7 linked regions of the Homo sapiens genome follow. The protein of the gene in region 1 purifies or fractionates together with the protein of each later gene. This does not show direct contact. Each region holds a gene or a part of one and is shown on either strand. Other genes may lie near its edges. The genes, in order: RAB11FIP5, WDR47, NENF, DIPK2A, KLHL8, RAB11FIP1 and C1orf198.

Region 1 (3,500 bases):
TTCTTTCCTCTATCCCATGCTGAAGCTTCTAAGGTTCTACTCAACAAGGAATTTACATCTGGGAAAACTAATCTGAAAGCGCCTTACATCCCTTTTTTTTTTTTTTTTTTTGAGATAGAGTCTCTTGCCCAGGCTGGAGTGCAGTGGCGCGATCTTGGCTCACTGCAACTTCTGCCTCCCAGGCTCAAGCCATTCTTGTGCCTCAGTGTGTGCCACCACACCTGAATAATTTTTGTATTTTTAGGAGAGATGAGGTTTCACCATGTTGGCCAGGCTGGTCTCGAACTCCTGGCCTCGTGATCTGCCCACCTGGCCTCCCAAAGTTCTGGGATTACAAACATGAGCCACTAAGCCTGGCCCCTTTTAGGACTAAAAGCAAAGAAAACACCAGCTGGCATGGGGGGATAAAGAGACCAGAGAAAGGCCAGGCCTAGGTATCTGGCTGGACAAAACCAGAACTTATAGGACCTAGCAGGGCACCTAGAATTCTGACACTTGAAACAGCCTGGGTTCTATTGATCCCTTGCAGAAGCAGAAGTAATGACGGGCTGTCATTGGGTGTGACAAGGTGTCTTGTTTCTTTGAGGGGCAGCCTAACTGGCTAAGGAATATAAGCCACCTGTGGAGAACGTCAACCAAAAGGTGCCCTGATGGTCCAGCCTTTGTCTGCCAAGGCTGGCAGTGTGACAGCAGCAGCAACTCTGGATGTCACCAGGGGCTTCTCAGGGACTCTGGGGACGGGGACAGGGCAGGTGCTCTTAGGACACTGGAGAACAGGTTCTGGCCTTCATCTGTCCAGGACAGGGTCCTTTCTGGGGGAAACGCCCCCTGCACTGGTGCTTATCCACAGAGTGAGGCCGACTCCAGAGATGCGGGCAGGGGCGTGCTCTCAAACTAGAGCTTCTCACTTCCCTAGGACCCAGACAGAAGGCCAGAAAAAATGGCTGCCTTGCCACTGAGCCACCGTCAGAGGCAGACCTCGGTGGCCTCACCCTCTGCCTTCTAAGCAGTCTCCCTCCTCATGGCTGGTCTCCCAGGCCTGGCTCTAAGCTTCCAGGACCCCTGTTCCTTGGCTCCTGCCTGTCCAGGTGGAAATATCCTGGGGAAACCCCTACACATCCGACTTTTCAAGCCAACCAGCTTCTTGCACAGGAAATGTAGACAGTGAGTCCTGAAGGGGCAGAAGCCGGGCTTTGGCCAGCCAGCCCATAAGGAGTGTGGCTTGGGGTAGGAAGGGCACCTGTGGAAAGAGCATGAGCTGTCTGGAGCTTGCCCGGATTCTCCCAGGAACCCAGGGCCCAAAGAGGGCAGACCCACACAGAGGTGGACTGAGGCAGGTCAGCTCGGCAGCTACCACCAGGGGCGGACCACAGGAAGGAGTCCAACTAAACAGAGGCACAGGTAGCTCCAAAGATGGTTCTGGGAGAAGGGAGGTCAGCCTCACAGGTCCCAAACCCAGGGATTTCTCGTAAGAATCAGTTTCCCGAGAGTCTCCTGACCCTATTTTTCCCCTTACAATAACTCCCCATCCAAAGGTAAATTCTCAGTCTCATCCCCTCCACCTAAAGATGGAGGGAGAGGGAGGTAAAAATTCCCACCTGTTCCCACCCCACCTGGGCTTCCACTACTACCCTGCTTCTATGGACATGGTGAAGATACCAAAAGAGGAAGAATCGTGGGCCCAGAGCCTCAACCCCAGCAGATGCCCTTTCTCCCTTCATTCCAGACAAGCCCCAGGCCAAGGCACACATGCCTGCTGTGGGGACCAAGGGGAGTGAGAAGCAACATACACCACCACCAGGTCAAGAGCCTGACCTCAGCCCACTTGCCATTAGTGCATCCATACCACACCCAGCCCAACCCTGTCTACAGGACCCGGGCCCCCAGGAACAGGGCTAGAGCACTCTGAGCTGCTTCTCTCCCCAGCCCCCTTTATGACAATAGGCCACAGTGGTCTGAAGGAAGAGAGTCCCATCAACATTAAAAGCACTACGCTTAACTCTGCCCCCTCAGCCCTAACCTGGCCTGCACTCACCCTTGCAGTCTTTCAGCAACCTGGCTGGCAGTCAGAACTGCAGGGACAAGAGCGGCAGGGGAGTAGACTGGGAGCCTCAGGTTAGGCTCGGCAACCTCCCTCTCCCGGCCAGCTCCCCAGAGGTACACACAAACCTGTTTGTATAGAATCAGCAAAGGGCTCTCCCTGGAGGAAGGGACTCCAAGCACCAGGCCTGGCAGGCTTTACAGAGCCAGCAGTACTTCTGAGGGCATCTGTCCATCCTCCTATCTGGTAACACATCCCTCCTTCATGCCTTCCTCTTCCTTGCTCCACACCAAGTGCACATTCTGAAGGTTCTCACTTCAAAACATCTCCCTCCCACTCCACCTGGCCCAGGTCAGGAACATATTCCCACGTATGCTTGTCTTTGCAGGTCATGCTCTGAGAACAAATAAACACCTCTGCATCCTAGAACCTACTGTGCCGGCCTGGCACACTCTCCCCACCCCCAAGCGGTGGGGGCAGCAATATATGCTGATTTGTCTTCTCTTTTAGGATCAAATGCTGGGAAGGAAGTCAGAAGTCCAGATGTCTCTGCCCCTTCAACCTGAGGGAATAAAACTTTACTGCCTGCAGGAAGCTCTGAACAATTGGTTGAACCTGCCACTCAACACAGGAACCACCTGTTCACCCTGACAGCCCCTCTTCTTAAACACTACACCACAGGGCTACCTCTGTAGCTGAAGGCCAGGTGTCACTAGCAGACAACTCTTCCTTGGGCTGAAAAGAGCTCTGTGTCCTTGTTATTTCCACACACTGGTCCCAGAGATGGCAAGTGAATCTGCACAAGCTCTCTACCAGGCAATCCCCCAAAGGCCGAAGCCAGCCTTGGAGGCACGTTCATCTCTAGCAACACTGCCCTTCAGCCTTCCATCCTGAGGCACGACCTCCTGACCCTCCTGAGATGGGCCCAACGTGCAGGAAACATGTCCAAGAGACGGGTACATCCTCTCCCATCACCTGGGCACAATGAGGTGACAGGGGCCTTGTAAGCTGTAAGTAGGGAGAACGTATCATTTATCTTCCAAACCAGAACACTGTTAATACAGTAACCATGACAAGAGCATGGTTGTGAGGAGCACATGAGGAGAGCAGGACGTGAGGCTGCACTAACTCCAAGCCACTGGGAGCACATTATAGTTACTCATTTACACCACCAAGAATGCAGCCAAGCTCCTTCCGCTGCCACAGCACATTCCAGGCCCACAGGGAGGGACCTTGTTGCCTACCACACCTGGTGCAGGGAGGCACTGCAGAGACTGCCAGAGGCCACCATCATGATACACTCATCTCTATGTTGTACCACACTTATTCCCAACTTTAAAAGTTTTTGTAATCAACATTTGATCCCCTTCTGTGCATAGAGTCCTATGGTTAGTGTGGGGGGCGGGGAACAAGGGAACACAAGGATGACCCGGGATAGACACAAAGACAATCCACTTTG
Region 2 (3,500 bases), on another chromosome or scaffold:
AAATGGCTTCAGATGAATATTATCACAAGTAGGAGTTTCTTCATATAGTATGTTTAACATAATTGATCTCAGTGAACTTTCCAATATTTATTTATTTATTTATTTATTATTATTGTTATTATTTGAGATGGGGTCTCGCTCTGTTGCCTAGGCTGGAGTGCAGTGGCGTGATCTCGGCTCACTGCAACCTCCGCCTCCCAAGTTCAAGTGATTCTCCTGCCTCAGCCTCCCAAGTAGCTGGGATTGCAGGTGCACATACCCCCACACTTGACTAATTTTTGTATTTTTAGTAGAGACAGGGTTTCACCATGTTGGCCAGGCTGGTCTTGAATGCCTGACCTCAAGTGATCCACCCAGTTCGGCCTCCCAAAGTGTTGTGATTACAGGCGTGAGCCACTGCACCTGGCCTGTTTATTTATTTTTTGAGACAGGGTCTCACTTTATCGTTCAGGCTGCAGTACAGTGGCATGATGATAGCCCACTGCAGCCTCAAACTCCTGGGCTCAAGTGATCCTCCTACCTCAGCCTCCCGAGTAGCTAGGACTACAGGTGCTTGCCACCACACCTGGCTAATTTTTGTATTTTTTGTAGAGATAGGGTTTTGCCATGTTGCCCAGGCTGGTGTTGAACTCCTAGACTCAAGTGACCTGCCTGCCTTGGCTTCCCAAAGTGCTGGGATTACAGGCATGAGCCACTGCACCTGGCTCGATATTTTTTAAATTACTGAAATATTTTCAAAAATAAGTAAGCTTATTCCAAAGTAAATTTTTATACTTCACAGCACAGTAGCTCTCCCGCAGCAATTCATTAGCAGTCCTTTTGACACATTGTCCTTACCAAGGCTAGGAGCTCTGAAGGGAAGGAATTTACATTTATTGAGCACCAGTTGCATGCTTGCCACTCTGCTAGGAGCTTGTTCTCATTTTACAAGTCAACATCCTGTTTTAACTGAGAAATAGTACTGGGCTGGGCGAGGTGGCTCATACCTGTAATGCGAGCATTTTGGGAGGATGAGGTGGGAGGATTGCTTGAGCCCAGACGTTTGAGACCAGCCTGGGCAACATAGTGAGACCTCATGTCTACAAACAATTAAAAAAAAAATGCTAGCTGAGTGTGGTGGTGCACACCTGTGGTCCTAGCTACTGGGGAGGCTGAGGTGAGAGAATCACTTGAGCCTGGGTGGACAAGGCTCTACCAGCCTGGGAGACAGTGAGACCCAGTCTCAAAGAGAGAGAAAGAAAGAAAGATAGAAAAAAATAGTACTACAAGCAAAAAGACATAAAAATTTTATACTATTTATAATTACTAGTTATGTAGTATGCTTGACATATGTAACTCAAATAATGTTTTTTTCCTATGGCTAAGTACCATGTTTTGTGACTCTTGTTGTTGTGATGAAAAAGAAAATGGAACCTTTTATAAAATCTTTTGAGAAAATTTTATAGAATTGGGTTGGTTTTTTTTTTTTTTTTTTTTGAGACGAGGTCTCGCTCTGTCCCCCAGGCTGGAGTGCAGTGGTGCGATCTCAGCTCACTGCAAGCTCCGCCTCCCAGGTTCATGCCATTCTCCTGCCTCAGCCTCTCTGAGTAGCTGGGATTACAGGCGCCCGCCACCAAGCCCGGCTAATTTTTTATATTTTTAGTAGAGACAGGGTTTCACTGTGGTCTCGATCTCCTGACCTCGTGATCTGCCCACCTCGGCCTCCCAAAGTGCTGGGATTACAAGCGTGAGCCACCACGCCCAGTCTTGTTTTGTTTTTTGTTTTTTTTTTTTTAGACGGAGTTTTGCTCTTGTTGCCCAGGCTGGAGTGTGATGGCGTGATGTCGGCTCACCGCAACCTCTGCCTTCCAGGTTCAAGTGATTCTCCTGCCTCAGCCTCCCTAGTAGCTGGGATTACCGGCATGTGCCACCACGCCTGGCTAATTTTGTATTTTTGGTAGAGACGGGGTTTCTCCATGTTGGTCAGGCTGGTCTTGAACTCCCAACCTCAGGTGATCTGCCTGCCTCGGCCTCCCAAAGTGCTGGGATTACAGGCGTGAGCCACCGCACCTGGCGATTTTCTTTGAAACTTTAAGAAGAGCTTTGGAAATGAAATTCCGGGAAGTGCAAAAACAGCATTTCACAAATAGATGATGATATAAAGAAATTTTAGGTGTATTCATTGTAAAGAGCCTAGATGATGGGAATTGTTAGTTTCACTGTATATAGTTCTTGATCAGACCACACCTGGAGTGTTGTGCTTTATTATTTATTTATTTATTTATTTTGAGATGGAGTCTCACTCTGTCGCCCCAGGCTGTAGTGCAGTGGCATGATCTCGGCTCACTGCAAGCTCCGCCCCGGGGTTCACGCCATTCTCCTGCCTCGGCCTCCTGAGTAGCTGGGACTACAGGCGCCTGCCACCACGCCCAGCTAATTTTTTGTATTGTTAGTAGAGACGGGGTTTCACCGTGTTAGCCAGGATGGTCTCGATCTGCTGACCCCGTGATCCGCTTGCCTCGGCCTTCCAAAGTGGTGAGATTACAGGTGTGAGCCACCGCGCCTGGACTATGTTTTTTTTTTTTTTTTGAGACGGAGTCTTGCTCAGTCGCCCAGGCTGTAGTGCAGTGGTGCCATCTCGGCTCACTGCAACCTTCACCTCCTCCTGGGACTACAGGCGCACGCTACCAAGCCCGGCTAATTTTTGTATTTTTAGTAGAGACGGGATTTCACCATGTTGGCCAGGATGGTCTGGATCTCCTGACTTTGTGATCCACCTGCCTCAGGCTCCTATAGTGCTGGGATTACAGATGTGAGCCACCGCGCCTGGCCTATTTTGGGTTCTTTAGGAGGGGGATTAACAGATATTTAGAGGAGGATGACGGGAGTGGGAAGGGATCTAGAAGCTATCTTCTGGTGAAGAATGGTTTTTGTAAGGATCGATTAGACAATGAATGTAAGATCCTAAAATAGTACCCAGTAGTTTTTGCATTGTAAACAAAGCAGTTAATCCTGTTTTGGGGATTGTACTTTAGTTGGTACCTTTATAGATTAAAACCTTTGAGATCTAATCCTTTAATATGTATATATTTTTCATTTTCATAGTTCTTTTTTGCTTTAAAATTAAAAATTGAGCCAGGCAAGTTGGCATATGTCTATAGTCTTAGCTACTCAAGAGGCTGAGGCAGAAGAATTGCTTGAGCGCAGGAGTTTGAGGCTGTAGTGTGCTATGAACAGGCCCGGCAATAGCAACTACACTGTAGTCTGGGTAGCATAGTAAGACTCCTTCTCTTAAAAAAAAAAAAAAGAAGATACAAAATTAAAAATTGGCTGGGCATAGTGGCTCATGCCTGTAATCCCAGCATTTTGGGAGACCGAGGTGGGTGGATCACCTGAGGTCGGGAGTTCGAGACTAGCCTGGCCAACATGGTGAAACCCCGTCTCTACTAAAAATGCAAAATAGCTGGGTGTGGTGGTGGGCGCCTGTAATCCCAGCTACTCGGGAGGCCAAGGCAGGAGAA
Region 3 (3,960 bases), on another chromosome or scaffold:
TGAAATTTCGGACCGGATGATGCTTTGTCAGGTGCATTACAGAATGTTGACCAGCATCCCTGGCCTCGAGATGCCAGTAGCATCCTGCAGTCATGACAGACAAAAATTAAAAAAAAAAAAATGTTGCCAGACATCACCCAATGTCCCCAGAGGGAAAAATCTGCCCACTCTAACAAAAGGGGCTTCCTCTTAAAATCTGACCTCAGTCCAGCATAAGGAATATGCCTCCCGTTCTTGGAATGACCTCCACCAGGCTCTGCCCACACTGACCCCGGCCCTCCTCACCAATCTCCAGCTGCACGTGCACTGAAGCCAGTTCCCACCCTCACTCCAGCCGGGTTTCCTGGCTCCCTTCCCATCGCCCACCCTCCCACCTCACCACTCTCTTTTCCTGCCCATTGCCTAAATGCCCCACCATCCGGCCCCGCAGGACTATGGAAGAACAACACAGCCCACCCGCTTATGTGGGCTCCAAGGAAATGGCCTCTGGGGAAGAATTCTCCTTTTGTAAAAATGGGACCTTTATTTTTGTTTTGATTATAAAGTGAACATGGTCATGGCTGAAAATCTGTCAAGCACAGAAAAGTATAAAGTAAAGGTCGCTCAAAATTCCACTGCCCAGCCAGCTGATACTGACATCTAGGAGGTGTCCCACTTTGGCTCTTATTGATCCCTGGTGTGCAGACAGGGGTCCCCAGGTAGACAGAACCCCTGACCAAGGACAACAGGAGGCATTTGCTCTTCCAGGGTAAGCATCTGTTTTATTCAGATCTGGGTGGCTCAGGGCCTCCAGGCAGCCAGTTTTGCAGGAGATTCAGCACCTAGTGTCTTCCTGCCTCACGCTCCCAAGAACCTGCTCCTGCAGGGGGAACATCAGAACTCATCCTTGATGTCAAAATGGGGCTGGTCTTCAGGCTTGAAGTCCAGGTTAGGGCTGCCATCCTCATTGAGAATTCTCCGGGCAGTGTAGCCGACGATGGGGTATTTGGCTTTGTACACTTTGGTGAAGACCTCATCCAGGGCCTCCAGTTCCTTGGCCGTGAGACCCGTCTTGGGGAGAAAAGCCCAAGAAAGACAGGAGATGGGGTTAAGTGGATAGTGTTTGGCACTGGCCTTTCTCCATCCCTGCCTTGCCTCCCACATCCCTAATGCAAGAGAAAAGATATCTCAACAAACCAAATAATGGACAAATGGCTTAAGAGACACTGCTGTGGGGGGGGCGTGGGGGTGGGAGGGTATAACATACGGGGAGCAATGCTTCATCACACTTTGTGGTTTGACTGATGGAAGGGATGAAAGACTCCAGAGAGCATGCTGGGGTGGGGCAGGGCATGCCCTATTGCATCTGCATCCCCTTCCTCCCCCCGATTAATCCTCCCTCTCTCTACACTGCTCCCATTATCCCTCTCTCTACACTCCTCCCATTATACATTTGGCACCTTCCCCTTTCTTAAGTTCTTCATTCATTTTTGTAATATTGTTACATTCATTTTGTTATGAGTTTGGCTCATCTCAATTTATCTCAATGTCAGTTTGATGTTGAGCACAGTTAGAGGAAATTCCAGCCTTACTGTTGGAATTATTTAGACCTTGAATAGGTTTAAAAAACAAATTTTTTTTTTTTTGAGATGGAGTCTCACTCTGTTGCCCAGGCTGGAGCACAGTGGCATGATCTCAACTCACTGTAACCTCCGCCCCCTGGATTCGAGCGATTCTCCTGCCTCAACCTCCCAAGTAGCTGGGATTACAGGTGTGCACCACCACACTCAGCTAATTTTTGTATTTTTAGTAGAGACGGGGTTTCTCCATGCTGGCCTGGCTAGTCTCAAACTCCTGACCTCAGGTGATCCACCTGCCTTTGCCTTCCAAAGTGCTGGGATTACAGGCATGATCCACCACTCCTGGCCTAAAAAATGTTTTAATGCTATCTTCTCCTTCACAGAAATATAAGCATAGAGGGAGACCTTTCTTCCCAACCCAGTTCATCCACAAAGCTACCAAGCATGGCCTGGGGAATGGGTCTCAGAGACTAATAGCAAGGCTGTAAGGGGCTGAGGGGATGGGGTGGCAGGTACAGACCATAAGGAGCATTAGGTTGCCAAAGCAGGTTGGGGCCAAATTGTGATGATCACTGAGTTGGATCACAAGTTCATAAGAGTTTGGACTTGACTCTAGGCAACAGACAGCCATGGAAGGTTTCTGAGTCGAGATGACATGGTAGGATAATCTATTTCAAGAAAATGCCTGGCCACCATACCAAGTGGACCGAAGGGTAAATAAGCTAATTAGGAAGGCTTGCTCTTGCCCAGATACACACACACACACACACACACACACACACACACACACACACACACACACGAAAAGAAAAAGAAAAAGAGAAAAAGGCATGGACAAGGAGGTAGAGGATTTTACAAAGGCTTATAATCTGGCTCACAGTGTCATGGGTGAGGTCTGCAGGATCCAAGGACATCTTGGCTACCCCTCTAGTGGAGTCCTTCCCCGTCAAGGCATTGTAGGGGGCTCCTCGTCCATAAAACTCTGTAGTGGGAAGGAAGGAAGAGACGTAAGCGTGGGTTTACATGCAGAGTAACCAGGAGCTTGCACGTGGGGGCGCTCCCAAGGCCCGCACCCAATCCTAAAAAAGACTCCACGCTCACGGAGAGGCCAAACAATGGCGATACAAAGTCCAGTAAGCCACCCCAGCCATCAGGTTGGATTCCACTTACTCTAAATGTGAAGTAAGTCACACATGCAGGCTGAGCAGGGATTTTCAGAAAATATAAAATGAGAATAGTACCCCTACAACCTCTTTTGTTGTTGTTTTTTTTTGACAGGGTCTCACTCTTGCCCAGGCTGGAGTGCAGTGGCACAATCTTGGCTCACTGCAATCTCCACCTCCCGGGTTCAAGCAATTCTCCCACCTCAGCCTCCAGAGTAGCTGGGACTACAGGCATGTGCCACCACCATGCCCAGCTAATTTTTGTATTTTTTTTTTTGAAGAGATGGGGTTTCACCATGTTGCCCAGGCTAGTCTTGAACTCCTGAGCTCACATGATCTGCCCACCTTGGCCTCCTAAAGCGCTGGGATTACAAGCATAAGCCACTGTGCCTAGCCCCCTTCTCGTTCTGTTTTTTCACCTAAGTGTTAATACTGAGAAAATAGTCTCTTAAAAATATTAGAGATGCAGGCTGGGTGCGGTGACTCACGCCTGTAATCCCAGCACTCTGAGAAGCCAAGATGGGCAGATCATTTGAGGTCAGGAGTTCAAGATCAGCCTGGTTAACATGGTGAAACCCCATCTCTACTAAAAATACAAAAATCTGGGCATGGTGGCGTGCACCTGTAATTCCAGTTACTCAGGAGGCTGAGGCAGGAGAATCGTTTGAACCTGGCAGCTGGAGAAGGTCGCATCACTGCACTCTAACCTGGGCGACAGAGCGAGACTGTCTCCAAAAAAAAAATTAAAGATGCAAACAAGAAAAATGTTCCCTCTTCTTAAATGTTGGTGGAAGCCAAATCTATTCCCATTCAGCAGTGTTTGTTATCAAATAATAGATAAACCAATACAAAACTATCTCCAAGATATCATTAGTAGTTACATTAAATGGCACTAAAATGTTCTGTAATGTTCTATAATGCCAACTCTTTACTAAAGAACACTTCTCTCATTGCTTCAACTAGGGTAAATCATTAAGTTTGAATTTAATTCTACAGGCAATGGAAAGTCATGAAAGGCTTTTGAGTAGAAGCATGTCATTATCAGGGGAAAAAAGCCCCTGCTGAAGTAAAACACTGACAAAGATTAACTCAATCTGCTCATTTAAAATGGAAGGAAGGCCAGGTGTGGTGGCTCACACCTGTAATACTAGCACTTTGGGAGGCCGAAGCGGGTGGATCACAAGGTCAGAAGTTCAAGACCAGCCTTGCCAAGATGGTGAAACCCCGTCTCTACTAAA
Region 4 (3,500 bases), on another chromosome or scaffold:
ATAATTAAGTATATGGGTAAAGTTTAAGGTTCTAATTGGATGACAAGGTATGTACAATTGCCATAATAGTGTCAATATTTTATATATAAACAAAATAAATATAAAGGAGCTATAAGGTATTAGGTGGGCATGTCATATGTACAACTAGAACTAGACTTGAAACTTATGATTTTGAGGTAAGAGGGATATTAGGCAAATTGAGAACACATAAGCACACATGTACTTGAAGGAGTCAAGGCTTGAAAAACAAATAGCTAGCTGTATAGGGAAGAAGGAAGAGACATTTTTGGAAGAGGAAACTGGGAATGCCCAGAAGTGGGCCGATTCATTCAGGAAAACAAGAGGCCATTGTAGCAGAAGCACCAAGGGCAATAGATGGAGGGGTATTAAAAATGAAGCACTCGAAAAACACATATATACACAGGCTGGGCGGGGTGGCTCACATCTGTAATCCCAGCACTTTGAGAGGCCAAGGTGGGAGGACTGCTTAAGCCCACAAGTTTGAGACCAGTCTAGGCAACACAGCGAGATCCCACCCTCTACAAAAAATTTAAAAATTAGCCAGGCATGGTGGTATGTGCCTGTAGTCCCAGCTACTTGGGATGCTGAGGCAGGAAGATCACTTGAGCCAGGGAGGTCAAGGCTGCAGTGAGCCGTGATCACACCACTGCACTCCAGCCTGGGTGACAGAGACCCTGTCTCAAAAAAGAAAAAAAAAAAAGGATCAGAAGAGGGCCAAGTCACACAGATTACAGATTATGCCCTGGCTTTAAGGTGTTTGGATTTTACTTCCAGAACAATGGGAAGTCATTAGAACCATTTAAGCAAAGGAGTAGTAAGTTAATGTTTTTTGAAGGTTACTATTCCAAAAGAAGGAAGGTTACTATTCCAAAGGAGGAAACAACTTCGAGAAGTTGATACTAGTCACAATCACTTCACAAATTTGCCAATTAGGTGGTTGCTAATGGCAAGGCAGAGGTCTACGTCAGGTTTTAATGGACTAAGGAATGAATAGAGGCTGAGGAAGCAGAAAGGCAATAAATACTTTTAAAAACAGTGGACAAGCAAGGAGAAGCAGAAGAGAGTCTTATATATACTTTTTATAGGAAGGCAAGAGAAGTTGGATATTAAAGGAAGGAGGTGGGACACTGAAGAAGATAACTGATGTAACAAGTTCTCAAAGAAGAATCTATCTGTTGCTGTTTTAATGAGGTTTAGATGATAAAGGACACTGGGGGAGTTGCCACAGCAAAATCTCAATTTCCCTGTGAAGAAATAAAATAAAGGTCATTTACTAGAAAGTGGAAAGAAAAGAGAGTAAATGAACAGACAGAGACTTTTGCAAAGTGACTATTTAGAGGACCCATGAGACATTTGAAAAGAAATGACCACAGTTAAAGCAGCACTAGAGCAATGCTCACTGTATGAAATGGAAGAATACAGAAGCTATATGGCTGGATTCATCTAAGGTCAGGAATTAGTAATAATTATTCCAGGAATGTCTGCATAAAATGAATTATAAAAAATTATTGTTATAAACACTGAAATAATTTTTTTAAGCTTAGGAAAATTGCACAACTCTATGAATATACTAAAAACCACCTGCTTGTGTACACTTTAAAAAAGAAAGAATAGTATACGCTGCTACAATATTCACAGATGTAGGAAGAGGTAAATAGAGAGTAGAATACTCCAGCAGGGTGTTCACTTCCTGTAGGAGGATCTACATGGCAAGTCAAGAAATAATCAGAAAAGTGGTCTGGTAAGTATAAAATCTGAAAAAGGGAGTGGGAAAAATCAAGTATTTAATAGGATCATGCCAAGATCATGCAAAAAGTAAATGTCAACCTAATATATGGCTGTCACATAAACTTTTCCCCAGGTGCCGTAAATTTTCAGCCTTTGTTTGTCAAAAGATACTCATATTACTTTTATCAGGGGGAAAGAGGGGATTAAAAAATATAAAACCCTCACCATGGAGCAACAACCCTTTGGTTTTGCTAACTGAATTGGTTCTAGACCTACAGGCTTTGTTCTTGATGCTTTACAACTTCTATGGCATTTAATTTTCTTTAATTTTCTTTTTTTTTTTTTTTTTTTGAGACGGAGTCTCGCTGTTGCCCAGGCTGGAGTGCAGTGGCGCAATCTCGGCTCACTGCAGGCTCCGCCCCCTGGGGTTCACGCCATTCTCCTGCCTCAGCCTCCCGAGTAGCTAGGACTACAGGCGCCCGCCACCTCGCCCGGCTAATTTTTTGTATTTTTAGTAGAGACGGGGTTTCACCGTGTTAGCCAGGATGGTCTCGATCTCCTGACCTCGTGATCCGCCCGCCTCGGCCTCCCAAAGTGCTGGGATTACAGGCGTAAGCCACCGCACCCGGCCGGCATTTAATTTTCAAAACACTTCAGACACTACTCATCTATCCCATGAAGAACTCAAAAGTAAATGGAGAGCAAAGTTTTGGGTGAGATGTAATAATCAGAATGTCAAACCAAACTCAGAGCTGCAGTGCCAGGGATCATCAAAATGGTTAAAAATAAAGTACAAACCATATTTCAAGAACCCATACAACCATTCTGTTTTTCACTTTCAGTACAGAATTCAATATATTACATGAATATAATTATATTCAACAGTTTATTATAAATAGGCTTTGTTTTACACAATTTCCCCCAACTTTAGACTAATGTAAGTGTTCTGAGTATGTCTAAGGTAGGCAAGACTAAGCTATGATGTCCCGTAGGTTAGATATATTTCAAATAACAATATTTTCAACTGACACCGGGTTTATCAAGATGTAACCCCCAGTAAGTCAAAGAGTATCTGTATTTGTTTATTGACAGTGGTCATATAAAGCAAAGAAAGACGCTTAAAGTTGCCATCTAAGGAGGAAATTCAAGGCTCATTTCATACAAGTATAAACATTATTTTGACATAGGAAAAAATGAGTAGAAAAAAATCTAAAATTATATACTTACTTTGTCTAATTAATCTTTTGTCAGCAACCAAAACATTTTCAGCATCCACAATGATTACCTTCCCATCTCTAGGACCAACTGCAAAATTGTCAAAGCTGACGTCCAGGAGGTAGAGTGCAAATTCAAAGTCATTGTTTGTAAGCTGTTCTGCTATTTCCATTAATTGCCAAGCGAGGTCAACTCGTTTTTCCCATGGCGCATTAAAGTAACTCCACAGTTCTTCTCCAACATAATTTACAGCCACCATTCTTCCACAAGCTCCAAGATACTTTGCAAATGGCCAACCTTCATCAGACGGAAAACTCTACAAAAGAATTATCTTAATATTACAAGAGATTCTGATGAAAATATCCTAGGTCTATCCTCAGATCCTTTCAGTAGAGATTGCTACTAGGAATGACTTTGGATTTTCTTATTACATTCAACAGTTTATTAGAGATTAACTTCATTTTTTCCTAACTCATACCAGTACTATGGACCTGAAAAAAATTTAAATAGAGAACTTTACATTATAAAGCTAAAAT
Region 5 (3,500 bases), on another chromosome or scaffold:
TGCAGTGAGCTGAGATTGCGCCGCTGCTCTCCAGCCTGGGCAACAGAGCAAGGCCTTGTCTCAAAAAAAAAAATTTTTTTTTAATTTTAAAGTATGTGTATATATATATATGAATATGATATGTGGTTAATTTGGAATATGAAAATTACCTGACTTTAAGAAACTGGCCTACTTGAAAGTAAGTGATCAAAGGATCGCCTTATAAAAAGATACTCTAAATTTGTCTGGAAATTTTGTCCCTGCTACAAACACATGTTAAATGCTGACCTGAAGCTGATTTTGATATTAAACAGAATCTTTCTTGGTTTCTTTTGAACAGGTTGGCTCAAAGCTAATCTCTTGTCACAAGCTGGTATTGGCTTGTGTTATTCCCTACTTTAGAGCCATGTTTCTTTCTGAAATGGCTGAAGCCAAGCAAACGCTGATTGAGATTAGAGATTTTGATGGTGATGCAATAGAAGACTTGGTAAAGTTTGTCTATTCTTCACGGCTCACTTTGACTGTTGACAATGTCCAGCCTCTCTTATATGCAGCCTGTATTCTGCAGGTTGAACTGGTGGCTAGAGCTTGTTGTGAATACATGAAGTTACATTTTCATCCCTCCAATTGCCTGGCAGTAAGAGCCTTTGCAGAAAGTCACAATCGAATAGACTTAATGGACATGGCGGATCAGTATGCCTGTGACCATTTTACTGAAGTAGTGGAGTGTGAAGACTTTGTAAGTGTATCACCGCAGCACCTCCATAAGCTTTTGTCCTCCAGTGATCTAAATATTGAAAATGAAAAGCAGGTCTATAATGCTGCCATCAAGTGGCTTCTTGCCAATCCTCAGCATCATTCCAAATGGTTGGATGAAACACTTGCACAGGTAGGAGCTGAAATAAGATTTCACACAGAAATGAAGTGATATGGAAGCAAATCAACATGCTTCATTTATTAGGAAAAGTGTAGATTATTTCAAGGAATATAGAAATTATTGATGTAATAAATAATAGAAATGGCTTTTAGCTCTCTAATTTTCCTGTTAACTTGCTGTGCTGTTTCAGGATGAATCTAAATTTGTCACATTTGAATTAGCAATATCATTCTCTGCTTTTAACCTGAATATTTAAAATATTCCTTTGGGATACTAATGATGAATATTTTATTTATGCCAATAGAAAATGGTTTGAAGAAATAGCTCTAAATTAATATACTTTATAATTATTGTTTTATAATGGTTTCTAAATTTTAATGAATTATTTTGCTAATAAAAGTATAGTTATTCCTAATGTGGATAGATTTATTATGTAAACAACCATAGGACATCACTTCTATTTTCTTCTCTCACCGTAGTTTGACTTTTTTTAAACCTCAGAAATGTGTCTCATTGTTACTGTTCTTATTTTTTACTGTCAATAGGAGTTACCAGGATAAGAAGATTATAGGCCCTTGTGATCTTTTTTTCTTTTGTCGTCTTCCTCTCCTTTCTCTCCCTTCCCTCCTTCCCTTCCTCCATTTTTTCCTTTCTTCATTTATTCCTGAGAAGTAAAATGACATTTTGCTACTTAAAAGAAGAGTGTTCTTATTTACTTATTTTTTCTAAATTAAATGCTTTGTTAAAACTTAGTGCTTGATAAAAGCACTCAGTGATAATTCTCGTGATTTTTAATAACAAAGTTTCCTAATAGCATTATCAGAAACTTAAACAAATAGTAAGAAGAATGAAGAAGAATGAAAGTGCTTATAATTACCAGTGTTCTCATTTTAGATATTTATAGGCAGATGAAGTAAACCTATTCAGAGTATGATGATAAGACATTTTTTCAAGTGCATATCACAATATTTATGCATTCATATGAGTATCAAAGTTCAGAACACATTTACATCTTCTCAGAATTATTTTGAAAGTAAGTTTGTCAGCAAAGCAAATAGAAAGTTTCATTATCTTGCAGCTATATCTTATTTGTGTATATGTGTTTTTCTTTAAGATGGTAAGGCAGATTTCGTTCAAGGGGGGCCATAACAATAGATACAGGGACTGCTGCAACGAAGTCTTGCAGTTGGGGAGAGAGACTGGACTCAACCCCTTACGTGTGTGTGTGCTTTTAACTCAAAATAGCATTACCTGGTTTCATCATCCCCTTTAATCCACTGGAAAATCAGTGTATCTTTAATAGAGGAATGGTGAATGCCTCTGTTGAAAGAGGGGATGCATCCCTAAGTTAGTATATTCCCTTCCAAGATCATTAATTTGAAGAAAACAACACTTGTTTCAGATATGAATTTTTACATTTTTAAGTAAGAAATCACATTTCCCTATGTTTAATCTTAGCTTAAAAAGGCAAAAGAACAAAGCACAGCACTTTTGTTTTGATTGTGCCTTTATCAATAGAAGGGCCTTGTGATTATGTCAGTACCGTTTTTGGAAGTAAGCAATTTGAATGAAGACAATTCAATTATAAAGCCTATTTAAACCGATATTTAAAGTGGGTGGATATAATTTAACGTGTAGTCTGATTGCATTTGAGCAGACCAGTACTGGAAATTGCTTATAATTTGGCACATTGAAAATCATGAACATGTTACATTTCATGAAGTAACAACTTAAGTTTTAAAAAGAGAACATGCTGCAGTAGAAGTGGAGAATTACTCATCTTGTTTTCACCTTTATTTGATACAATTTTTAGACTTTATATTTTCCCAAGAAAATATAAAATTTGTTGTATTGCAACTATTCATGATCTTAGGTTCGCCTGCCATTGTTGCCGGTTGATTTTCTTATGGGTGTTGTGGCAAAAGAACAGATTGTCAAGCAAAATCTAAAATGTAGAGATTTACTGGATGAAGCAAGAAATTACCACCTTCACTTGAGTAGCAGAGCAGTACCTGACTTTGAATACTCCATTCGGACTACCCCAAGGAAGCATACTGCTGGTAACCAAATTATTTTGTCAATTCTCCTGGAAGGATCTTTGTTGTATTTGAGGGTTGTTCATGTGTGCCCAAACTTAGTTGTAATATAATTAGTGTCTGATTGCCTTAAAGTAATAATTGGCAAATACGGTTTTATATATTTATAATTTTTACTGTACATTATTTAGTTTTACCAATAAGCCAGTTTTTTAAAAAGCCGTAATCAGTCCTGTATACTCTGAAGAGCCTACTGAAATATCTCTTCTTTTGAGATCTTTCCCGATTCTGAACTTGGTTTACTATGTTGCATTGTCATTTACTCATTTGACATGTCTTAAGTTCTTCAAAGACAGCTGAGTATCTTATTTAGGTTTCTATCCCTAGGGCCAAGCATGGAACTTGAAATATATTGTGCATCTAAATATTTGTTTTTTCATTTTACCAAATAAAAAGGGCACTAAACATAGCTAACATTTGTATAATGGGTTATATTAAACTCTTAGAGTCTAAAGCCCTTATATTTTAGGAGGCAGGCAGTTTCACCTTTATTTGATACAATTTTTAGACTTTATAATTTTTCCCAAGAAAATAGTTCATGTTCGCTT
Region 6 (3,380 bases), on another chromosome or scaffold:
TTTATTAAGAGATTTAATAAATAAAATAAAATTTATTAAGTGTCTTCATGTCACTACACATGGCAGTCGATGTCCACTTGGAATCACCAGGCCTCTCCACCAAAACCAGGGAGGCCTTCAGGGAAGCTCCCCCATCCCAGCCCAGGAGTCTCACAGGCACCGCCTGCCTCTGTCTCTCTACAATGTGACTCATCTCTAAGAGCAAAGGTATCACTTCCATTCCAAGAGGTCTGGGACCTTGGAGTGTGGACCACGTGCACCGCTCGCGGGGCAGGCACACCTCTCACCTCCTTGGGAAAGGCCTGGGGTTTGGAGAGATGAACTCCAGGAGACTCCTGTGCATCCCTAATACCCTCTATTCACACATGGACAAACTAAGTCAACTGAACAAGGACCTGGTTCCCAGATGGGGCAGTTGAGCCCAGCCTGAATTCAACTCATGCCCCCAAAGTGAAGACATCACTCTGTGGGAACCTGTGTGTGTGGTGGGGGTGGGAACTGAGGAAAGACCCTGTCCAAATGCTCAGCCAAGGGTACCGGCTGCAAAGGAAAAGGGGGCAGCACGTTCCAACTCAGTTTCTCTGGCCAGTGCCATGGTCCCTCAGGCCAAGATGAAGGGTGCATCCGAAGGGACCAGACATGTCCGTCCTCTTTGAGAAAAAGGGCCTTGGGACTCCTGGGAACCAGGCAAGATGGCAGCAACAGAAATCCCAGTGAGAGACCCTCATGGGATGAGAAACACTGGTCATCCCCCCACCCCCACCAAGAGAGGTTTTCCAGGAAGACAAAATAAATTTTTATTGCACCCATACCAAACTACAGACACAAATCTTTGAAAGGTAAGTACCATTTTATTTAGTGTTGTAGGAAATGTTGGGTTACTTCTTAAAAACGAAACCAAAGAAATTCAAAAGTCCCAAAGAAAGAAAGCAGGAAATAATAATTCTATAATCCAAAAACGTTGGGCGATCCTTCAGTTGGAGGAAGAGGGCGTCAGTTAAGTAGCTCACACAGTAGATATGGAGACACCATATGGAGATACGGAGTTAAGTTTGGTGGATACTAGGAATTAAGTTCTCCACCTAAGGCAATTAATTTTTCAGCCTTGAGAGATAATTAGTAGTTCTAGAAAAAGAAAAAAAGTTGACTGGGAGAAGGGTGGGAGGGAGGATGGTGCGTCATTTAACATTAAATTGCCTCTCTCTACAGTATGTGGCTGAGCATCATGGACCTTCCTCCCTCTGCCCCGTTGAGCTCCCACTGTTAGCAAAACTGAGAAGCACATGCCTGTGTCTTCTTCATACCGGCATGTGCACACACACCTGTATCTCCTTCATACAGGCATATGCAGAGCCCTCACCAATCGGGGTCCACAGCTGTTCAGTATGGCAAAGGGCAGACTTACTCCTTCATCCACTCTGCTGCCTTGATGAGGTGAACACACTGGAATAAGATGGAGGGCAGGATACCTGCCAAAGCCTGAGGCATGAGATGATCTGAAACAATTGGGCAAAGGCTGGACATTTCAAAAAGCTGACTTCCAACTGCAGTTTATGGGTATAGAATTTGATGCTTCCCTCAAGTCCTGACTGCTCTTTCTGAGGCAGCCAGGCTAGGCCAAGAAATGAGCTGCTCCAGCTTCTCCAGAGCACAGCAGCCTCCCAGGGCCTGTCAGCATCTGCAGCAGCTGGAAGGAGGTCCCAGCTCTTCTGAGACATAGGCCATTTGTAGGATTCTCCAGTGCTCCAATTCACTAATGTCTCCTAATGGCTCAGAACAGGCTAAAGCTTCTCCCAGATAACCCCTCCCCCAAAACTGAGTCCTCAGGGACAGTTGTTAACTGAATGACCTCCAGGTTATCTACTTTGGGAGGTGCAGGAATGCTATAAACTGAATTTTTTCCCAGCAGCAGCAGAAGCCAGGCACCCTTGAGTCAATTGTCCTTCATTGTCCAGAGCTACCAAGTGGCATTTCAGAGCACAGGAATTTACTCCTCCACCCAGATGTCCCTCTCATATGGACTGAGTCACACACCCCAGGTCCTAGCAGCAGACATCTCCAAACCAACATCCTTGTGAACACTGCAGATCTCTACGCCAGCTCTCCAATGGAAGAAGAACCACATAGAGCACACCTGCCCCCCAGGGCACTTGGACTATCACAGTAAAAATACATTTATATCAAGTAAAAAACATAATGCAGGACAAATATATACATGTACCTTTTCTTTCTTTCTTTTTTTTGAGACAGAGTCTCGCCCGTTGCCCAGGCTGGAGTGCAATGATGTGATCTCAGCTCACTGCAACCTCCACCTCCCTGGCTCAAGCGATTCTTGTGCCTCAGCCTCCCGAGCAGCTGAGATTACAGCTGTCTGCCACCACACCCAGCTAATTTCTGTATTTTTTAGTAGAGACGGGGTTTTGCCATGTTGGCCAGGCTGGTCTCGAACTCCTGACCTCAATCAAGTGATTCACCCGCCTCAGCCTCCCAAAGTGCTGGGATTACAGGCGTGAGCCACCGCGTCCAGCCATACATGTACATTTTCAGAGTTCAAGTGAACATACAGTTTTCTTTATAAGTATGTAAATAAATTTCATAGCACTACAAAAATACAAGTCATCTGAGAAGTTTACAGTGGTCCCAGTACTGTAGGAGAGAATTAAATAAAATAAAATAGCTGTAGATAATTAAAAGCTAATTAGATAAATCAAGTTACAGTATCATCCTTCAGATTAAAGTGCTCTGATATAACCAATGCCACAGCAAACGAAATCCTGGAAAGAGATTGCACTGCCAATGATTTTGTCTCTTAACCTCAATGTAACAAGGACACACATAAAAGAGATTCCTGATTTAATAACTGCTATCATCTTCACCCCCAACCACGCTATTAGCCTGTGATATTCTTCCCCTAGGAGAGATGTCAAGATTAGATGAGATTCTATCATAGCCAGGGAAAAAAATGAGAAATACCAGAAACATTCTAATTCCAGTCTTAAGTGAGTAACAACAAAATTACCTGAAAAATCTCAGCTGGTGCTTTTAGCTAAGAAGGAAGCAAGTGCCCTAGTTAAAAAAAAAAAAAGTCTATAAATCTAGTTTTAAAAATACAAATTCAAAAATAAGTATCATCTTCTTGCTCTGCACAGTTTTATAACAAGGGGGTAAAATGCTGGTGAGTCTATTCATGAGGGAAAATGGAAAAAAAGCAACCATTTGAAGGCTGAGGCACCTGTTTTCTACTGACTTTTAACTTTTATTAACTACATTAAGCCCTTCACTACAATTTCCCCAGTATCCCACAAATAATTTGGGTTTCCTTTTGGGCAGGGAGAGAAAGTGTTCAAAGGACAGACATGCAGATGCAGTTCAATCCCTTT
Region 7 (3,500 bases), on another chromosome or scaffold:
CATCCACAGGGTAGAGTAGAGATCCAGCTTTGGATCTTTCGAAAAAGGTAAATGGAAATCAACTGGCAAAGGTGCTCCTTCCATCCAGAATCAGACAGGCCACTGGCCACCCAAATGGAAAGAGGAAGTGCATGAACACCTGCGGGGCAGGCAGAGGGCAGGACCACTGACTGGCCAGGGTGGGGCATGATGGAGCTGGACTCCCCTGTTACTCGATATGATTCTAAATATTAATTATATACCTTAAGTCCCTTTGAAATCTGCAAAGATTAAAATAATAAGGCTTTTGGCTTTGGAAGGTGGCTCAATACAACACTCTGAGGAACGAAGACTTAGCCCAGAGCTTGGGGACAGTCAACTCTCCAGTGACTGCAACCCATATTAGCTGAAATTCCAAGGGGGTCACAGGAGGAGAAAGGGTCACACTGTGATTTCTCCCCTACTTAGTGTCGAGTCAATAGTCTTCTGTTTGCTCCAGCAAGAAATGAAGTCAAGGGGCAGATTCCTTGGGTTTCTGTAATTCTGAGCTCATAAAAAACAATAAAGTGCTTAACAAAAATAAACATGCCAAACAAAAATGTGATGGAAGCTCTGATGTCAGCCGTGGACTGCACGCTCTAGCCACAAAAAAGCACTGGCGGCAAGAACAGGCTCCCTGGGCTGTTGGATGCAAATGGAATCAGAATTGCAAAGTGGCGGCACCCACTCACACGCATACAATGCTGTCCTTTCTTCTACTCCCATGGTGACCAGCCTGCAACCAAAATGAGGCCAGGCACATGCTTTTGGACCAATCACATATGCTTTTTCTAGGACTGCTTGGAAGGCTTTCCCACCCCCCTCTCTGGCGCCTAGGATCTGAAATCATCTAAGTGTCAAAACACATCTGTTACTTAGGCCACACGACAAGAGAGTGGGCTTCATTGTTGGCCAGGACTTATCCTCAGAGTCAAATTCCGTAAGAGGCATCCATACCAAATGGGCAGCACTGAATCTCTCCAGAAACAATGACTTCTTTGGAGTGCAGAACAGAAAGATGCCCCAGGTCACCAAATCCCAGAGCAGAAAGCCAAAAAGCAGGGGGGAAGCTATAGAAAGCCACCAGAAACACAGAGCACTTGGCAATTATCAGAGGCCAGCGCTACATGTAAGAGGCTCTGCCAGTCCCCACGCAGCTCCAAGGACTCCGGGATAAACACACACACAAACAATCTTTTTCCCTAACATCCCAGAGACCTTGAGTATTTGCTCTTCTCTGGGAAATGTTCATTCAATTCAGTGTGCACCTCCTAAATCCTAAATGAAACAGAATTAAAAATAATAACATATATTTTTTGCTCATAGTGCTGGAATACATGTTTGCATCATATCGCCAGCGTTTACTTCTTTACTTGTTGATAAAAAAAATGGATACTGGAGGGCTTAAGAACTCTGTGGTTCCTAGACACTTTTATTTTTGGAGGCTGCAAGGCTGCAACCAGAGGTGTGTTGGAGCAGGCCTGCACCAACTAACGAGAGCTGATTGTAAAATTTTGAGGAATTTCTTGAACCTGTTGTTAAATATCTTGTTTAACTGCTGTGATTAAAAAGGTGAATTATACAAACTTGCAATTAAGTCCATTGTATTAAAAATAAAGGTAATATACTTCACACCCACAAGGATGGCTACTATCAAAAAGCAGATACTGGCAAGTATTGGTAGGATGTGGAGGCACTGGAACCCTTGTGCACTCTTGGTGGGAATGTAAATGATGCAGCCATTATATAAAACGGTTCGGCAGTTCCTCAAAAAATTACACATACAATTACCATTTGTTCTAGCAATTTCATTCCTAGGTATACACCCGAAAGAACTGGAAGCAGGGGCTCAGAGATCCTTATACCCCGATGTTTATAGCTGTGCCATTCACAATAGCCAAAAGATGAAAGCAACCAGGTATCCACTGACAGATGATGAATGCATAAACAAAATGTGGTCTATCCATCCAATGGAATATTATTCAGTCTTAAAAAGGAAGGAAATTCTGATACATGCTTCAACATGGATGAACCTTGAAGACATTATGCTTAGTGAACTAAGCCAGACACAAGGATAAAAATCATGTGATTCCACTTATATAAGGTACCTAGAGTAGGCAAAATCATAGAGACAGAAAGTAGAATAGAGGTTATCAGAGACTGAGGCCAGGAAATGGGGAGTTATTGTTTAATATATACAGAGTTTCATTGTTTAAAGGATATAGTTTCACTTTAAATAATACACGAGTTCTGGAAATGGATGGTGGTGATGATTGCACAACATTGAGACTGTACTAAATGCCTCGGACTATACACAGAAAAGTGGTTAAAACGGTAAATTTTATGTTGTATGTATTTTACCACAATAAAAAGTCATGGAAAGACATGGAGGAACCTCAAATGAATATTATTAAGTGGAAGAAGCCAATCTAAAAAGGCTACATATTGTATGATTCCAGCTATATGATATTCTGGAAAAGGCAAAACTACAGAGACAGTAAAAAGATCAGTGGCTGCCAGAGCCTGGGGGGCGGGAGGCATGAGCAGGTGGCACACAGAGGATTTCTGTTAAGGCAATGGATCCCCTCTGTATGATACCATCATGGCGTATACCTCCAAGAGCGACCCCTAGTGTAAACCAGAGACTTCGGTTGACAATGATAAAAACAATGCAGGTTCACTGATTGTAATCAGTGCACCACTCTGGTTTAGGATGTTGGTGGTGGGAAAGGCTGTGTGCATATGCACGTCTGTGTGTACATTTTGGGAAAGGTCTGTGTGGGAACTCTCTGTACTTTCCGCTCAATTTTGCTGGAACCTAAAACTACTGTAAAAACTGAATTTTTTTAAAGTGTGCCCCCCCCAAAAAAAGTAATAAACACTAGAAACTCATCATTTCAATACAGTTACTATTATCCATGGTCTTAAGGTTGTTTGCATCCATTGTATGTGTAAGGTGGAAATACCATATAGCGCGGTGCCCAGATATGCATCCCGTGAGTCACGCCAACAGCGTGCAACGGGCCATGGTGGAGTATCTGGTCATGGCAACCAGCAAATGCTAGAAGTCAGGGCTAGTTCGCCTCACTCCCCCAGAGCCGGCTCCAGCATACCACAGGCTACAACCATAACAAACATCCTGATATTCATCACATTCTGCAAGTGTTTCTGGTGTGTGGATGGATAGCGCCTGCAGAGGGAGCTGTCCAGCATGGGGGCTCCCTTAGGGCCTCCACAAGCTGTTCCAGGAAAAACAGCTAGGCGGGGAGTGAGGGGCTTTCTGGGGTGATTCTAAAACAGCATCAGGATCTTGGAACACGGCAACACGCGTATTGATGCCAGAAATGGTCATCGTCTTCCTGAAATCCATAAATAAGGAGAGTTTCTGGTTGACACCTGTGGCATCTTGGCTTGAAGGTAAGAAATGTAAACTGAGAAATTCTATAAGCTAGAGAAATAAGGCTTAGAGAGCAGAGCATGTG

What was found.
Region 2: the proteins of RAB11FIP5 (region 1) and WDR47 purify together in Homo sapiens (affinity purification with mass spectrometry; one large-scale study listed by BioGRID and IntAct). This does not show direct contact.
Region 3: the proteins of RAB11FIP5 (region 1) and NENF fractionate together in Homo sapiens (co-fractionation; one large-scale study listed by BioGRID). This does not show direct contact.
Region 4: the proteins of RAB11FIP5 (region 1) and DIPK2A purify together in Homo sapiens (co-immunoprecipitation; one study listed by IntAct). This does not show direct contact.
Region 5: the proteins of RAB11FIP5 (region 1) and KLHL8 purify together in Homo sapiens (affinity purification with mass spectrometry; one large-scale study listed by BioGRID and IntAct). This does not show direct contact.
Region 6: the proteins of RAB11FIP5 (region 1) and RAB11FIP1 purify together in Homo sapiens (affinity purification with western blotting; one study listed by BioGRID). This does not show direct contact.
Region 7: the proteins of RAB11FIP5 (region 1) and C1orf198 fractionate together in Homo sapiens (co-fractionation; one large-scale study listed by BioGRID). This does not show direct contact.

The regions. Positions count from the first base shown.
Region 1 is NC_000002.12:73,081,949-73,085,448, forward strand, and holds part of RAB11FIP5 (rab11 family-interacting protein 5), read right to left. Parts: intron 1-3,500. UniProt on the Homo sapiens protein: Rab effector involved in protein trafficking from apical recycling endosomes to the apical plasma membrane. Involved in insulin granule exocytosis. May regulate V-ATPase intracellular transport in response to extracellular acidosis.
Region 2 is NC_000001.11:109,035,603-109,039,102, reverse strand, and holds part of WDR47 (WD repeat-containing protein 47), read left to right. Parts: intron 1-3,500.
Region 3 is NC_000001.11:212,442,920-212,446,879, reverse strand, and holds the end of NENF (neudesin precursor), read right to left. Parts: intron 2,542-3,960; coding exon 2,438-2,541; intron 1,051-2,437; coding exon 874-1,050; 3' UTR 501-873; downstream 1-500. UniProt on the Homo sapiens protein: Acts as a neurotrophic factor in postnatal mature neurons enhancing neuronal survival. Promotes cell proliferation and neurogenesis in undifferentiated neural progenitor cells at the embryonic stage and inhibits differentiation of astrocytes.
Region 4 is NC_000003.12:143,985,323-143,988,822, reverse strand, and holds part of DIPK2A (divergent protein kinase domain 2A isoform a precursor), read right to left. Parts: intron 3,281-3,500; coding exon 2,977-3,280; intron 1-2,976. UniProt on the Homo sapiens protein: May play a role in cardiomyocyte proliferation through paracrine signaling and activation of the PPI3K-AKT-CDK7 signaling cascade.
Region 5 is NC_000004.12:87,182,619-87,186,118, reverse strand, and holds part of KLHL8 (kelch-like protein 8), read left to right. Parts: intron 1-319; coding exon 320-868; intron 869-2,729; coding exon 2,730-2,916; intron 2,917-3,500. UniProt on the Homo sapiens protein: Substrate-specific adapter of a BCR (BTB-CUL3-RBX1) E3 ubiquitin ligase complex required for The BCR(KLHL8) ubiquitin ligase complex mediates ubiquitination and degradation of RAPSN.
Region 6 is NC_000008.11:37,858,118-37,861,497, forward strand, and holds the end of RAB11FIP1 (rab11 family-interacting protein 1), read right to left. Parts: 3' UTR 501-3,380; downstream 1-500. UniProt on the Homo sapiens protein: A Rab11 effector protein involved in the endosomal recycling process. Also involved in controlling membrane trafficking along the phagocytic pathway and in phagocytosis. Interaction with RAB14 may function in the process of neurite formation.
Region 7 is NC_000001.11:230,858,522-230,862,021, forward strand, and holds part of C1orf198 (uncharacterized protein C1orf198), read right to left. Parts: intron 1-3,500.